Linked DNA regions of Homo sapiens: region 2 is linked to region 1. Evidence: fine-mapped expression QTL. Tissue or cell type: thyroid. Region 1 holds a variant in brackets; the other region holds the start of a gene. All regions are shown on one strand. Distances are between the middles of the regions.

Evidence for each region. PIP is the estimated chance that this variant, and not a neighbour inherited with it, causes the effect.
Region 2: TMEM220-AS1 starts here. The variant in region 1 is fine-mapped to the expression of TMEM220-AS1 in thyroid (GTEx, PIP 0.98).

The regions. Positions count from the first base shown.
Region 1 is chr17:10,659,406-10,667,509 of GRCh38, forward strand. It overlaps a transcript of MYH3 not described here. Among named protein-coding and RNA genes, the nearest start is that of MYH3, 6.1 kb to the left of the region's middle. The variant C/T (reference allele first, on the strand shown) is at 4,009.
Region 2 is chr17:10,725,405-10,733,508 of GRCh38, forward strand. TMEM220-AS1 (TMEM220 antisense RNA 1) reads left to right here and starts at 4,373. Exons shown (of 4, transcript NR_073458.1): 1 at 4,373-4,496. TMEM220 (transmembrane protein 220) reads right to left here and starts at 4,619. Exons shown (of 6, transcript NM_001004313.3): 1 at 4,376-4,619; 2 at 3,627-3,656; 3 at 800-860. The coding sequence starts at 4,447. RefSeq lists enhancers at 4,071-4,657, 4,658-5,244 and silencers at 4,258-4,427, 4,438-4,677.

The DNA of each region.
Region 1 (8,104 bases):
AGAAAACGTCACAGACTCCTAGAGTGTTCAGCTGTGAGATCTTGGCAGTTTCTTTTAGTCTGGATCATTCCTCCTATCTTACGTATTTATTTTTCAGTAATATAGACATCACTGGACACTTTTTATGTGTCAGGCACAGAACCCAGAACTTCCAGAGTGCTCCACATGGAGATGGCCTGGTCCCTGCCTTCAAAGAGGCATTCGTCTGTAGGGCTGAGAAGAGGAAGACACGTTCCCCCAGATGAACTGTGTGGTACAAGATCAAAGGTGTTGAGTGGACCAGAAAGGCACCCATGCTGATCGCGTTCAAATGAGGGAGAAAGAACACCCTGCTGAACCATCTCTTTGGCTGAACTGTCTCCTTTTCAGATGAGGAAACCGAAGGCAGGAGCCACAGGAAGCTTGCTGGAAGCGGTGAGAAGAGGGCCAGCGTCAGGGATAGAGGTCAGCTCTCCAGGAGAAATCCCGCAGTGGCTGGAAGGGACAGCACCCACGGCAGTCTGGAGAGCAGTTGAAAAGCTGGATATCAGGAATCACAAAGTCTGGTCATTTGGAAACGTATCTTTAGGAGAGGTGAGAACTGCATGTACTTCCACAGCAGCAGGTCGGAGCAGGAGGAGCATGGAGCTGAGAGTCCTACAGGCCTGGATGTGGATCCCGGCTTGCCCGCTTGCACACCACGTGATGGCAGGCAGTGTGCTTCTTTGAGCCTTCGTCTTCTCCTCTGTAAAACGGGGGTGACATACCTGCCTCCCAGACTAGTTATGTGCATTCAGCGGGATATCCCAACATCGCACACACCATGCCTCGTGCTGTGTTTGGTACATTGCAGGTGTTTGCCAGGTGTAAGTTTTCTTCTCTACCTGCAGATTATGGCACAGTGTGACTGGTTTTCTTAATGAGAACCCTGAGTAAATTACACTGAATATATGTCTTATTGAGATGGGGAGGGAGAAAGAGACATATGTAATATTAAAAAATAGTTTCTGGCCGGGCGCGGTGGCTCACGCCTGTAATCCCAGCACTTTGGGAGGCCGAGGCGGGCGGATCATGAGGTCAGGAGATCGATACCATCCTGGCTAACACAGTGAAACCCCGTCTCTACTAAAAATACAAAAAAAATTAGCCTGGCATGGTGGCAGGTCCCTGTATTCCCAGCTACTTGGGAGGCTGAGGCAAGAGAATGGTGTGAACCTGGGAGGCGGCGCTTGCAGTGAGCCGAGATCATGCCACTGCACTCCAGGCTGGGCGACAGAGTGAGACTCTGACTCGGAAAAAAAAAAAATTCTATCCAGCCGGGCATGGTGGCTCATGCCTATAATCCCAGCACTTTGGGAGGCCAAGGCGGGTGGATCACTTGAGGTCAGGAGTTTGAGACCAGCCTAGCTAACATGGTAAAACCCTGTCTCTACTAAAAAAAAATACAAAAATTACCTGAGTGTGGTGGTGGGTGCCTGTAATCCCAGCTATTCGAGAGGCTGAGGCAGGAGAATTGCTTGAACCCAGGAGGCAGACATTGCAGTAAGCCGATATTGTGCCACTGCACTCCAGCCTGGGCAACAGAGTGAGACTCCTTATTTTTTTTTTTGAGACAGAGTTTCACTCTTGTTGCCCAGGCTGGAGTGCGATGGCGCTATCTTAGCTCACCGCAACCTCCACCTCCCAGGTTCAAGCAATTCTCCTGCCTTAGCCTCCCGAGTAGCTGGGACTACAGGCATATGCCACCATGCCTGGCTAATTTTTGTATTTTTAGTAAAGATGGGTTTTTACCATGTTAGTCAGGCTGGTCTTGAACTCCTGACCTCAGGTGATCTACCTGCCTCAGCCTCCCAAAGTGCAAGGATTACAGGTGTGAGCCACCGCACCCAGCCTGAGACTCCATCTAAAAAAAAAAAAAAAAAAAAAAAAAAAAATTCCATCCAAAGAGAAAAATCTTAAAGAAGAGAGTCTCTTGCTGCTTCAAGAGATAGCTTCAGGAGTGAACTGGATCCTCTCTTGGAATTCATCCTCTGATGAACAGGGGACAGATGACTTAGTGGCATATTATTAGCTGGCTTTTGGGAACAGAAGGAGCCCTTATTCTTTCAGCCATCACACAGCCAGGGATAATCCCCACAGCCAGGGCAGAGCTGCATTTATCCCTTGATGGGCTGGAAAATATATGTATTGTGTCTCAAGAATGCAGGCCGGCTCAGCAGGCAATGAATCAGGTGGCTGCCCCCTTCTTCACGATGCTCGGTCACTTCCTGCCCAGCTATTTTCTCCACCGCCGCCGTTTGATGTTCAGTCCTGAGAACGGATGCTGGGGCTCCCAGCCTCGCAGCATCATGCCCAGGACCGCTGTCTGCCAGAGCATGAAGTCAGCCTTGGAGAGCACATGGCTCCTGGATCAAGAGCGTTCTCCATGCCCCACTGTGATGGGGATTAGGTGTCACTAGAAATGAGGAACTCGGTTATCCTGAGCCAAGACCATTCCCTGGCACTGAGGTGAAGGGTGGGGGTCCTAAGCCAAAATGCCCAGAGTCTCAAGAAGAAATTCAAGAAGAGAGAGGCCATAACTCTCCTTTTAGTTCAATTCAACTATATTATGCACCTTCCCCAGCTTTCTTTCTTTCTTTCTTTCTTTTTTTTTTTTAGACAGGGTCTCACTCTGTCACCCAGGCTGGAGTGCAGTGCCATGATCTTGGCTCACTACAACCTCGGCCTCCCAGGTTCAAGTGATTCTTGTGCCTCAGCCTCCCAAGTAGCTGGGATTAGAGGGAGGTGCCCCCATGCCAGGCTAATTTTTGTATTTTGAGTAGAGACCGGGTTTTCCTATGTTGTTCAGGCTGGTCTCAAATTCCTGTCCTCAAATGATCCACCCGCCTTGGCCTCCCAAAGTGCTGGGATTACAGGCAGGAGCCACTGCGTCTGGTCCCCAACTTTCTATCATGAAAAATGTCAAGCATTTAGGTAAGTACAAAGCGTAATAAATGAACACCCATATCTAAATGCGACCACTGTTAACACTTTGCCAGTTTGCTTTCTCCCTCTCTCCCTTCTCTTTCTTTCTCTGTAGCTAAGTCTTATTTTGCTATGCCATTTGAAAGTAGTAGACAATATGCAAATTCACCCTTAAATATTCAGTATATATCTCCTAAGAAAAAGGACAATCTCCAAAATGCCATTGTTTTACCCAATAAAATTAGTAATAATTCTATATCATGTCTTAGGCAGTTCGCATGTAAATTTTTCCAGTTCTTCCAACAATGGTATAGCTGGGTTCTCCCCAACCCCCAAGTAAAGATGGAATCTTTTTTTAGGCATTACACTTGATGAGTATGTCTCTTTAGTTTCTTTTAGTCTTGATCATTCCTCCTACCTTATTTAGTTATTTTTCGGTAATATAAACATTATCGGGGCTGAGTGCAGTGGCTGACGCCTGTAACCTCAGCACTTTGGGAGGCTGAGGTGGGTGGATCACCTGAGGTAAGGAATTCAAGACCAGCCTGGATAACATGTTGAAACCCTGTATCTGCTAAAAACACAAAAATTAGCCGGGTGTGGTGGTGGGTTCCTGTAATCCCAGCTACTCAGGAGGCTGAGGCAGGAGAATCACTTGAACCTGGGAGGCAGAGGTTGCAGTGAGCCGAGATTACACCACTGCACTCCAGCCTGGGTGAGAGAGTGAGACTCCATCTCAAAATAAAATAAAGTAAAAAAAAGTAAACTGAAATAAAATAAAATAAAATAAATCTTATTGGACATTTTACGTGCCAGACACAGAACCCAGCCCTTCCAGGGAGATACAGATGGAGACAGCCTGGTCTCTGTCTTCGAGAAGGCGTTCACCTCTAAGAGTGAGAAGAGGCAGACATATTCCTCCAAATGAACTGTATGGTACAAGATCAAAAGTGTTGAGGGGATCAAAAAGTCACACATGCTGATGGTGTTCGAATGAGGGAGAAAGAATGTCTCGCGGAACAAGGTGGCCCCAGGGAGGGAATGCTAGGGCACTCTGTGAAGAGG[C/T]ATTCATGTGGGGCCCTGTGGAGCAGGAAGAGTGCTCGAGAAGTCAAGGGTGCAAGAAGGCATCCTCAGCAAGGGGACAGGAGGGCCAAAGGCAGAAGTGGGAAAGCTCACAGGGGCCCAGGAAATGAAGGCTTCTGGAAAGCTGTGGTACAGGGAAAGCCAAGTCGACAGACATCAGACATTGATGGATTTCTCGAAGGGTCCTTTCCTCTGGGAGGGGAAATGGGTGGCTGGGGGGACACAGGACAGGAGGGGGACTTTCTTTTGGCTTTTTGCTATTTACCTTTCTGTAACTTTTGAATTATGTGCTTGGTATATGTGTCACCTATTCCAAAAACTAACTAACACTTAAAAAAAGGTCTAACATGGCCAGATGCGGTGGCTCACACCTGTAATCCCAGCACTTTGGGAGGCCGAGACAGGTGGATCACCTTAGATCAGGAGTTCGAGACCAGCGTGACCAACATGGTGAAATGCCGTCTTTACTAAAAATACAAAAATTAGCTGGATGTGGTGGCGTGCACCTGTAATCCCAGCTACTCAGGAGGCTGAGGCAGGAGAATTGCTTGAACCTGGGGGGCAGATGTTGCAGTGAGCCAAGATCGTGCCATTGCACTCCAGCCTGGGTGACAGAGTGAGACTCCGTCTTAAAAAAAAAAAAAAAAAAAAAAAGGTCTAGTATGAAAAATGCTTCCCACCTTGCAAATACAATAAAAATGAATATTATGCCTGCTTTCAAGAAGGTTATGTAGAGTCTTATAAAAACTCACTGTTAATGCAGGAGTAAAAATTGCTAGCACATTTTCGTCTCTGCTCTGCTAAAGATATTGTGAGCATTGGTTCATCTAATGCTCATGTAAACTCTGCGAGGGAGGCACTATGATTAGCTACGAATCCCAGAAGAGGAAACCAAGGCACGAGACAGGTAGAGAAACTTGCTTGGGGTAGGTAGCTAGTGAGTGACCGGCCAGGATTATAATGGAGTCCGGTTTGATGTCAGAGCCTTGCAGAGAACCACCTCCCTAACTATTAATACATGAGAAAAGATTAGGGGATGGACGGTTCAGGAGTTATGACATAAGCTGGAAAGTTTGCAAAGTTAATCAGAGTAAATTTCCTGAAAATGTCAAACTTCGATCTGTGAGTGAAAGGGAGAGCTGGTGCTGAAAGATGAACAAGTAATGAGTTGACGGGGAAACCTAAGCCACGGGGAAACCTAAGGAGAGGACTCAAGATGAGAGTCAGGTCCAAGACACTCAGCTGGCAAAAAGGAGACGACCCCGTATCTATGGTGGGGCAGGTGGCGGCTACCGTCGCAGGCTGCATTGAACTCAGATGATTGACGGGACCCTTGTGGTAGGGAGCTCAGAGCAACATGATTGAAGCCGAGAAGAATGATTTGAGCAAAACAGGTGAAGACAGATTCCAAGGACAAAAAAAGGAGGCAGGCATGGCCCAGGACCTTGCCAGGGGATTTGGAGAAAGGAATTAAAAGTAATGGATGGGCCTGAACAATGACATAGACAAGGAAGCAGATAAATTAGTCTGCCAGCTATATATCAGGCATGGAAGGGAAAGATCAAAGATCACTGTGAGGTTACCAAAGGGATGAAATTGGGAGCAAACGGCATCATGATAATAGAAAATATAGAAGAAAGGTGGCCAATTTGGGAGGTAGGGGTTGGTTAAAATGTAAGCCATAACCTTTATTTATTCATTTATTTTTATTTTTTATTTTTTTATTTTTGAGATAGAGTCTTGCTCTGTCGTCCAGGCTGGAGTGCAGTGGCACGATCTTGGCTCACTGGAACCTCCGCCTCCTGGGTTCAAGCGATTCTCCTGCCTCAGCCTCCCGAGTAGCTGGAATTACAGGCACCCACCACCATGCCCAGCTAGTTTTTGTATTTTTAGTAGAGATGAGGTTTCACCATGTTGGTCAGGCTGGTCTTGAACTCCTAACCTCCAGTAGTCCGCCCGCCTTGGCCTCTCAAAGTGCTGGGATTACAGGTGTGAGCCACCGAACCCAGACTATAACCTTTAATTTAACACTGAATTTTTGTTTAAAGCAGCGATTTCAAACCTGGCTATCCCTTAGAATCACCCGAAGAGCTGTTTGTATAATCAATTGGTTCTGGAAGAAAAGACTCTATAGCAATAGAGAGGATAAAATACTTAAGAATAAACTTAACAGGAGATATGCAAAACTTTAAACTGCTGAAGGACACAAAAGTAGATATTCCTTGCTTTGGATAGGGTGATTCACCATCATAAAGATGTTAATTATCCTCAAGCTAATATATAAATGTAATGCAGTCCCAATAAAAATACCAACACTTCCTTTTTCTGGAGCTAGAAACTTGATTTTAAATTTTGTGGATGTATGGTAAAGAAAATACTGAAAAAAGAAAAGCCACAGGAGGACATTCTGCCAGATACTAAAACATACACTCTAAAGTCTACATAATGAAGAGGGCAGTGCTATGCATGAAGAGACAGACTGACCAGCGGAACAGCATAGAGAGTCCAGAAGGAGGCCCGGATACTTATGGAAATGTGATACCTGAAATGGCATCTCAAGTCAGTGGACCAAAGATGGACTCTTTAATAAGTGGTGATGAGACAACCAGATGGCTATTTGGAAAAAAAATGAATCCGGATCCATACCTCACACATACACCAGATTAAATAACAAATAGATCAAATCAAAATGCAAAGCCAGGAAACAGGCACTAAACTAGATCATGGTAGATTCTTTTATAATCTGGAAATGGGGAAGGCCCACCATGACTCAAAAGCAGTAAAATAAAAAACAATAGATAAATCCAACATCATAACAATTAAAAATCTTTATAGGAAAATTAAAATAGAGCCAAAAGACATGACAGGCTAGGCACAGTGGCTTATGCTTGTAATCACAACACGTTGGCCAGCTGAGGTGGGAGAATTGCTTGAGCTCAGGAGTTCCGGACCAGCGTGGGCAACAGAGTGAGACCTTGTCTCTACAAAAAAAAACCAGCAGGCATGGTGGTGCATGCCTACAGTCCCAGCTACTTGGGAGTGGCTCATGCCTGTAATCCCAACACTTTGGCCAGCTGAGGTGGGAGAATTGCTTGAGCCCAGGAGTTCTGGACCAGCGTGGGCAACAGAGTGAGACCTTGTCTCTACAAAAAAAAAAAAAAAAAAACTTAAAAAACTAGCCAGGCATGGTGGTGCATGCCTGCAGTCTCAGTCTCAGCTACTTGGGAGGCTGAGGGGGGAGGACTGCTTGAGCCCATGAGGCCAAGGCTACAGTGAGCTACAATCACGCCACTGCAGTCTAGCTCTGGCAACAGAGCAAGACAAAAACAAAAACAAAACAAAACTAAAAGACGTGATAAAATGGAAGAAAATATTTGTAATTTACATCACAAAGGGCCAACTTCCTTAATGCATAAATAATTCTTAGAAGTTACGAAGAAAAAGACAAGGAAAACAACAAAACCCTGCAGATAGCAACAAATGGCAAATAAACAAGCAGACGGTTTATAGAAAATGATACACAGAAGGGCTTTAAACATATGAAAAATGCTTACCTTTCCCTATTTAAGAAAAATGCATATTGAAAACACACTTTCTAACCAATCACATTGGAGAAAATCCAAATGCTGGGCAAGACATTCTGTTGGCAAAGCTGTCATAACACACACACTCACACTTTTCTGGTGGGTGGAAAATTGTGCAACTGCTACGGAGGATAATTTAGAAAAACAAACTAGCAAAATGATACGTGCAATTTCCCTTCCATTGGGAAAACCACTTCTAGGAACCTACGGTAAGAGATATTTTCACAAATACTAAAATACTGTGAGCATAACGATATTTATTGTGGCACTGTTCATAATAGTAAAAGATTGGAAACAGCCTATGTTTATTGACAGGAGGCTAATTGAATAAATTATGTTATATCCACATGAGACAATGTTATGCACCCTTAAAAAAGAATCAGAGGCCGGGTGCAGTGGCTCAAACCTGTAATCCCAGCACTTTGGGAGGCCAAGGCAGATGGATCACTTGAGGATAGGAGTTTGAGACCAGCCTGGCCAACGTGGTAAAACCT
Region 2 (8,104 bases), 66 kb after region 1:
CAGTCCATGTTTCCCAGTGAACTGGACTTTGGCTAGGTCAATCAATACATGTTATCTCCTCAGCCACAGTGATTTGGATCAGCACAAACGGACAAGCAATCAGAGCCAGCAACTGCATTCTGAGACTTTGGTAGAGTGAAGAAACACAGTCCATATTCCACTGGACGTGGCATCGTGAAGATGTGAATGGGGGGCTGCAGGGCCACTGTGTGGAGCCCAAGAGTGAAGTTAGCATGACAGATGGTGGAACTGAGAGGTGGAGAGAAGGTAAAGTTCCGAGTCCACCAGTCTGAAGCCAGCACCACCCTTCACCTTTTCAGTAAACTGTACCAATACCTTTTCTTCTCAGCTCATAGCACATTTGAGTTATTTTCTAGCTTGTATCTAAAGGAGCCCTAACTGATCTACCTTAAAGATGCAGACGGAGTTCTAGCTGCCTATACAAGGAGCCCAGGCATCTAGGGAACTAGAATTTTCCCCACTAAGGTGGGACTCATTAGTCTTTATTCTAAGGCCCCTGAGAACATTCGAGCCCCACTAGGAGAAACTGTTTTAAAGAAAGTGAAGAAGAATCTGTCCTCTCACTTCTATAAAACAGAAGACGCTGTTTTATAGCAGATCCTTCTGACGTTTTCCTGAAGATGGGTAAGGATGATTAGAATTAGCCCCTTTTATTATCAGAAATGAGAAGAAAGGCCTAGAGAGCCCCGTTTTACTCCTGGGAGTTGGGCAGATAGACCCTCATTATTATGAGGAAATCTGATTTGCTGTCTCTCCATTTAGAATGCAAGGCTTATACCTGTGACTTCAGGGTTAAGTCCAACAAGCAGGGTCAGTACTGCAGGGATTGTGTACACCACCTGTTAGCAAAAAGGGAGGAAATTACATGAGTTAAGATGTATGCCCAATATATGAGATGTTCAGAGATACAGGAAGTAAAGAAAGATGAGATCAGTGGCTGCTGTGCCCCATGATTTGCCTCTAAGTTTCAATGGTGATTGAGAAAGTGGTAGATTCTCCTTTTGTGGCACTTAGCACGTCTGCCTGCAATTTTATCTACCTTCCTCCTAGACTATAGGCTATTCCAGAAGCTCATTTATCTTTGAGCTCTAACACTGAGCACAGGGTTTTGGTCTTAAGACACACTAACTTTCCAGTCGCTCCCAAGCAACTTTCATGCCCAAATGGCCTTTCCCCACTTGCATAAAAGAAAATGTTCTTTGAAAAGTAGGGCAGGAGCAGCCACGATGCTAGATGGCCCTGCTGGCTTTGGACCCAATGGACCATCCAGGCCAGTACTGCATCTCTGTGAGACCACAGAAAGTTTTCTAATAATGCATACACAATCAGCTGTGCCCAGTAATAAGGTCAGGCTCTTCATTTTGGAACTGCTGATAAGTGTTTGGAAATGAGAAGACTAGCCCTAAAGAGGCCCTATTCCTAAGCCTTGTTCATAACAAGCAGGCTCTAGCCAAACTTACTATTGTGTGTGTTGTTGGCAGGGAATAAGTAGGGAGGGTGGGTTTATAAGAAGGATGGGGACTTTCCAAACAATGTAGCTGTCTAATCACATCAATTTCTGTGCTTATATCAGAAGATGTTAAGGCAGGTGCCAGGGGTCCATGTGGGAGGTAGTGGAGGGCTGAACTGTGAATGAGGGAGGATGTCTATGGGGACATGGGGTCTATTCCTCCTATTATATCGTCTGAGCATGAATGAAAGGTAAAATGTGCAGGTACTATAGAGATAAGCAATTAGACCTCGATTGTTTAATTAATTTTTTGGAGATGGGGGGGGTCTCGCTATGTTGCACAGGCTGGCCTCGAACTCCTGGGCTCAAGTGAGCCTCCTGCCTCAGCCTCTTGAGTAACTGGGACTACGGATGCCTGCCACCATGCCCGACTCAAATTTATTTTGTGTTTTGAGGGGCTCTCCAAGGCAGTGGTAAGGAACAGAGAGATGATAAAGATGACTGAGATTCTGAACAAGAATGACTCAGAGAATGATTCTGCTGATAACAGAAATGGGTGAGTCAGGATAAGTAGATTTTGGAGGGAAAGATGCTAGGTAGGTCCTTGGGCATATCTGAGGAGCAGTGTGACATGCAGGTGAATATACGCAGCAGTCTTTTGGAAATTCACCATTAAGCTGGATGTCTGAGACTTGTCTGCAGGGAAATAATATTTGGAATTCAAGATACGGACCAGGGTGCCAAGGCAAAGGCAGTTTGATTTGATTCAGAGGCATACTGATCTGGATAGTAAATATCAGAATGTGGTTTTACTGCACTAAAAAAACAAAACCTGGATAGAATTTCATGTTATAATTCCAGATACCATCATCCTTGTTGCTCCTCTGTCAATATTATTCTAAAGCTTAAGAGTCATCTCCTTGGTGTACTGTACAGTCTTGTGTATCTATATTGAGAGAAACTGGGCAAAATTCAGATATTTTGGAAGATAAAAGATATTTAGAGCCGGGCGCGGTGACTCATGTCTGTAATCCCAGCACTTTGGGAGGCTGAGGCAGGTGGATCACCTGAGGTCGAGAGTTCAAGACCAGCTTGACCAACATGGAGAAACCCTGTCTCTACTAAAAATACAAAATTAGCTGGGTGTGGTGGCGCATGCCTGTAATCCCAGTTACTTGGGACACTGAGGCAGAAGAATCACTCAAACCTGGGAGGTAGAGGTTGCGGTGAGCCTAGATTGCGCCATTGCACTCCAGCCTGGGCAACAAGAGCAAAACTCCGTCTCAAAAAGAAAAAAAAAAAAAGATATTTAGAAGATGTATGGAACAATGGCCCCCTCCTCCAAATGGTTCAAATCAGAGCCTTGCTTATATGAAGACTGTAGGTTTTACAGGATTTAATACTTTTCTTTGCTTTTTTTTTTTCTTTTTTTTCTTTGCTTTTTTTTTTTTGAGATGGAGTCTCACTCTGTCGCCCAGACTGGAGTGCAGTGGCACGATCTCAGCACACTGCAACTTCTGCCTCCTGGGTTCCAGCGAGTCTCCTGCTTCAGCTTCCCTAGTAGCTGGGGACTACAGGCGCATGCCACCACGCCTGGCTAATTTTTGTATTTTTTGGTGGAGACGGGGTTTCACCATGTTGCTCAGGCTGATCTAGAACTCCTGACCTCAAGTGATCCACCCGCCTTGGCCTCCCAGAGTGCTGAGATTGCAGGCGTGAGCCACCTTGCCCAGCCAGGAGTTAATACTTTCTAGAAATATAAGTCACTGAATTAGCAGAACCTCAGAACTTAAGCCTGTTATTTTCCGGTCAAAGGTTTGCATTGAGTGTCTGGCTAGAAACTCATAAGGAATTGTTCAACTGATCTTGAGAGGCCTACTCTAGGTCCTCAAGAAAGTCCTCAGTTGGGCCATCTAACCAAAGGGAATACTGCAGAAAGACCTGTTTCCAGAAAGTTCGAAATTCACACACACATTACATTAGAACTCTGATCCTGCCTATTAATATTTTAGGAAAAAGCGCTTCCCAAGGGTTTGATTTTTAAGTTTCTCAGAAAATTAAGCAGGGAGGAGGGGTAAAGACATAAAACCGTGTGTTTTGTGCCGTTCCCCAATTCTTCCAAACGGAGGAAAGCCTGGAAGCGGCTCATACTCACCACCCACACCTCTGCATCTGGGTCATTTACCTGGAACGCCAGAATACCAAGGTGTTAGCAGACATCCTGTGCTGTTCCATTCCTTTTAAATTCATTTAAGCACATTTTTTATTAATTTGTTAAGTGCCAGACACTGCAATAGGCATCGAGGGTACAAAATCTGAACAGGATATAGTCCAGATGAGGACGGGTGAAGGGGTTTCTGGCTGACACAACAGATGTTTTTAACAGGCAGCCACACATTTTTGAAAAGCCTTCACGGGAGCTCTGGAGAGGACTCGCCAACCCAGAACGGGTATTTTAAGGGCCCTCCACCCCCACCAGTCTCAAGAAATGAGGGAAATGATTATGAAGGGGGTCCCCAAGCCGACTAAAAAGTTTAATGATGCTATAAAGGGTTTTGGTCGGCTTCGTCTCCTAGGCCCTGAGATATGTTCAGTGTCGTCCGCGGGCCGGACGTTAACGCAGGAGCCAGGGCCGCTTCTTCTGAGGTCCCCTGGGAAGTTCCACGCGCGGAACCAGCCCCTTCCAGGGTGTGAGCCCTGGTATGGGACTCGCTTCCATGAACACATCCGCGTCTCTTAGACGGGGGAGAAAGTGGGGGCTCCCCAAGCAGAAAGCCCAAGTCCCGTCCTCCCCACTAACTGTGCGCCCCTGCGACTCTGCCCGCTAGTCAGTTACACGGCCCGCTAGGCCAGGGGGCGGAGCTGGGAGCCGGGCGGGTCCCCCTCCCACCGCGGCCGCCTGACCTGCACCAAGGCCGCCAGCGCGAAGAAGGCGGCCATGAGTCCGTTGCAGGCCCGCCACAGCGCTGGCGCCATGGCTCGGAGAACACGGCGCGGGGCGGTGAGTCCTGCCACGTGCGGGGCGGTGAGTCCTGCCACGTACGGTCCGCCTTCCTCCTTGCGCGGAGGGACCGAGACCCCCGCCTCGGTTTCGGTGCCTTGGGGACACTGCCGTGGCCGTCGCTCCGCCCGGGGGCGGGGAGCGAAGGGCGTGGGTGTAGCCCCCACTCAGCGACCCATTCAGCCCGCCCCGAACGCCGCGGGGTGTAGGCGGCGCCGTCCTGGTTTCGCGGATGGGAAAGCGAGTCCCTCAGGGAGCGCAGGTCTCGGTGGTGGACGGAAGTCGAATTTGAACCCGTATAGGTTCAACTCCAAACCCTGTTTTCACTAAAGCTACCTTCCTCACAAAAAAAAAAAAAAAGAAGAAAGAAAAAAAAGAAGGAAAAAAGGAAGGAAGGCAGGCGGGAGGGGAGAGAGGAAGAAAGAGAAAGAAAGAAAAAGAAAGAAGGAAAGAAAGGGCTGGGCGCAGTGGCTCACGCCTGTAATCCCAGCACTGTGGGAGGCCGAGGTGGGCGGATCACCTGAGGTCAGGAGTTCGAAAGCAGCCTGGCCAACATGGTGAAACCCCGTATCTCTACTAAAAATACGAAAAAATTAGTCGGGCGTGGTGGCGGGAGCCTGTAATCCCAGCTACTCAGGAGGCTGAGGCAGGAGAATTGCTTGAACCCGGGCGGCGGAGGTTGCAGTGAGCCCAGATTGTGCCACTGCACTCCAGCCTGGGCAACAAAGCGAGACTCCTCAAAAAAAAAAGGATAAAAATTGTTTTTACAAAAATAAGAAAGAGAAAGAAAAAGAGATGTGTGTGTGTGTGTGTGTGTGTGTGTGTGTGTGTGTGTGTGTGTTCTGTTTAGTATTTATGCATTTCCTTCCAAAGCTCAGGAACTTTCAAATCCCTGTAAGCATTATGGTAATTTCTAGAGTGACGACAGTTATATTAACATCTTATACGGCTCACAGCTTTTCGGCAGACAGGCTCATTTATCTTCATGGGCTTTTATTATAAAAGATATTTACATATTATACATATTTACAATTCTCTCCCACCACCAAAACCAACAAAATTTCCAAAATTGCTCATGAATTTCTTATGAACCGAAGACACTGAAATATTCACTGTTCTCCCCTAGTCTGTCTGGTCTTTTTCTGTTTTGTAATTCGCCCTTCTGCTTAGTTCCTCCCCGGGCTCATTTACACATCCATAGGCCTCATTTCTGCTGTTCTAAAGAGTCTTTATCGCTTCAAATCAGGAGCTTCTGTGCCTGTCCTCTTTTCCTTTGAGCTAAATCTCCTAAAACTGTCTAGTTTTTTTTTTCTTTCCCTCTCAGTTTCATTCTTTTCACGAAACACTTATTTCAAGAACGTTGTCTGCTCTGTGCCTGGTGCTGGGACCGTGAAGGTCCCGTGCCGGGACTAGGCAGGGAGCCTGGCGGCTGGCGGGGGTGGGCACCCGTGTTTGCAGAGGTGGGGTGGGGACAGCGGGGACCAGCACTGGGTGGAGTTCCACAGCTAAATCAGCCCTGGGATTGGAAACAAGCGAAGACTATTCTCACTGTGCTTTTCCTTACATAAAAGAAAAAAATGAGAGCGAGAGTGCTAGGGGCTGACTTGCATTCCCCCTGCACCCCCAATTCATATGCTGAAGCCCTAACCCCCAGTGCCTCAAAATGGGACTGCATTTGCAGACAGGGACTTGACAGAGATGATTAAGTTAAAATGAGGTTATAGGGTGGACCCTAATCCAATATGACTAGTGTCCTGATACGAAGAGGGGACAGTTACAGAGGGAAGACCACATGGGCACACAGGGAGAAGACGGCCGTCTGCAAGCCAAGGGGAGAGGCCTCATGAGAAACCAACCCTACCAACATCCTGAATTTGGACTTCCAGCCTCCAGAACTGTGAGAAAATAAATTTCCGTTGTTTAAGCCACCTAGACTGTGGTACTTTGTTGGGACAGTCCTAGCAAATTAATACAGGGAATGATTATAATACCCACAAGGAAACAATGGCATGGAAGTGCTTTTAAGCTCTTGAATGCCATACAACCACCATGAAGTTTTATAGTTTTCACTGTTGTCTGGGACTTTCTTTTTTTATTTCTATTTTTTTGAGACAAAGTCTTGCTCTGTTGCCCAGGCTGGAGTGCAGTGGCACGATCTCAGCTCACTGCAACCTCTGCCTCCTGGGTTCAAGTGATTCTCCTGCCTCAGCCTCCAGAGTAGCTGGGACTACAGGCGCCCACCACCATGCTGGGCTAATTTTTGTATTTTTTTTAGTAGAGATGGAGTTTCACCATATTGGCCAGGCTGGTCTCGAATTCCTGACCTCATGATCTGCCTGCCTCGGCCTCCCACAGTGCTGGGATTACAGGCATGAGCCACTGCACCCGGCTGGGACTTTCAAAGTCACCTTAGTGAGCGTCTGTTGGTTTTGCCTTTGCAGGGTTCAGTCCCCTTTCTTCGAGGATCAGTGTCTTTAGTACTGTGGATTACCACATGCACTATGGGTGGATGTGGACTACAGGGTTGACCGTGCTCCCCTCCTTTTGGGGATAGGCAGGTGACTTTGGCCTGCCAGCTGACATATCCCATTCTGTTGACCACTGTGATTGGGTCTAGGATGGGTATAGGATCCAAATTGCCCAGATTCAATCCTAGGACCTATATGGGACTTAGGTTGTCAGTAAAGGACAACCTCAGTTGAACTGAATTTTGGATCATCAATGATGTGTTCCAAATATTTGCTAAATCTGGCAATCCTACTCACACTATTAAAGAGAAGCTTTCTTTGTGATGAATGTGTAGAGCTGGTAGAATGTGAGCCTGGAGCTGTCAGGAGAAAGCCTCACAGGGAGAAAGGCTTTCTGCAGGTGAAGTTTAAAAGCCTGGATCCAGCCATGCCTGAAAATGGAAGAATCTCACAACCAACAGAGTCTCTTCTTTACATAAGCCCGTGTGAATTGGGTTTTTGTAATTTGCAACAAAGAATGATGACTTGTAAAGTCATGATTCAATAGTTAAGGCAATGTGTGAAATCCTTGCAAACCTCCTGCTATAGGTTTGTCCAGGCTTTGCAGAGACACGGAAGAGAAGGCTTAGTCTGAAAAGTAATGAAAAATACGTTTAAATGAATCCAATATCTCAGACAGCTCTGCTTGAAGAGTAATTTCATTTCCCTTTTTAGCAAAAGGCTATGATACAATACTGCAGAGAAGATGAGGTTTTAAAGGCAGTAGGGTCTTGTCAAAGCTGGCTTCCCTCTGCAGAAAGGGCAGCACAAAGGACCCTTCATCCTGCTGGACACTCCCTGGCTGCCCAGTCAGTGACAGCATCATAAAAGCAATTGAGCCACAGGAGTGAGGTGAGCTGGACTCACTTCCCCGCTGGAATCCGAGAATGGCTGGACATCTGCCCTCTGAGAACTTGGAAATAGAGGTGCTTGCTTATTCCCTGAGAGTAGGGTTGTTAATCCAATGCTAAGAGTTGGAGCAGAGACAGGAAGCTCATATAAAGACACAAATGGCCTCCCAGGGTCACAGGATTGAGAGAGAGAAAATGAATGCATGAAAGTACGTAAAAGAAGAATGTCAGCAAAGGAGGATTGATGGGCTTGGAGGCTTCAAGTTAGGTCATC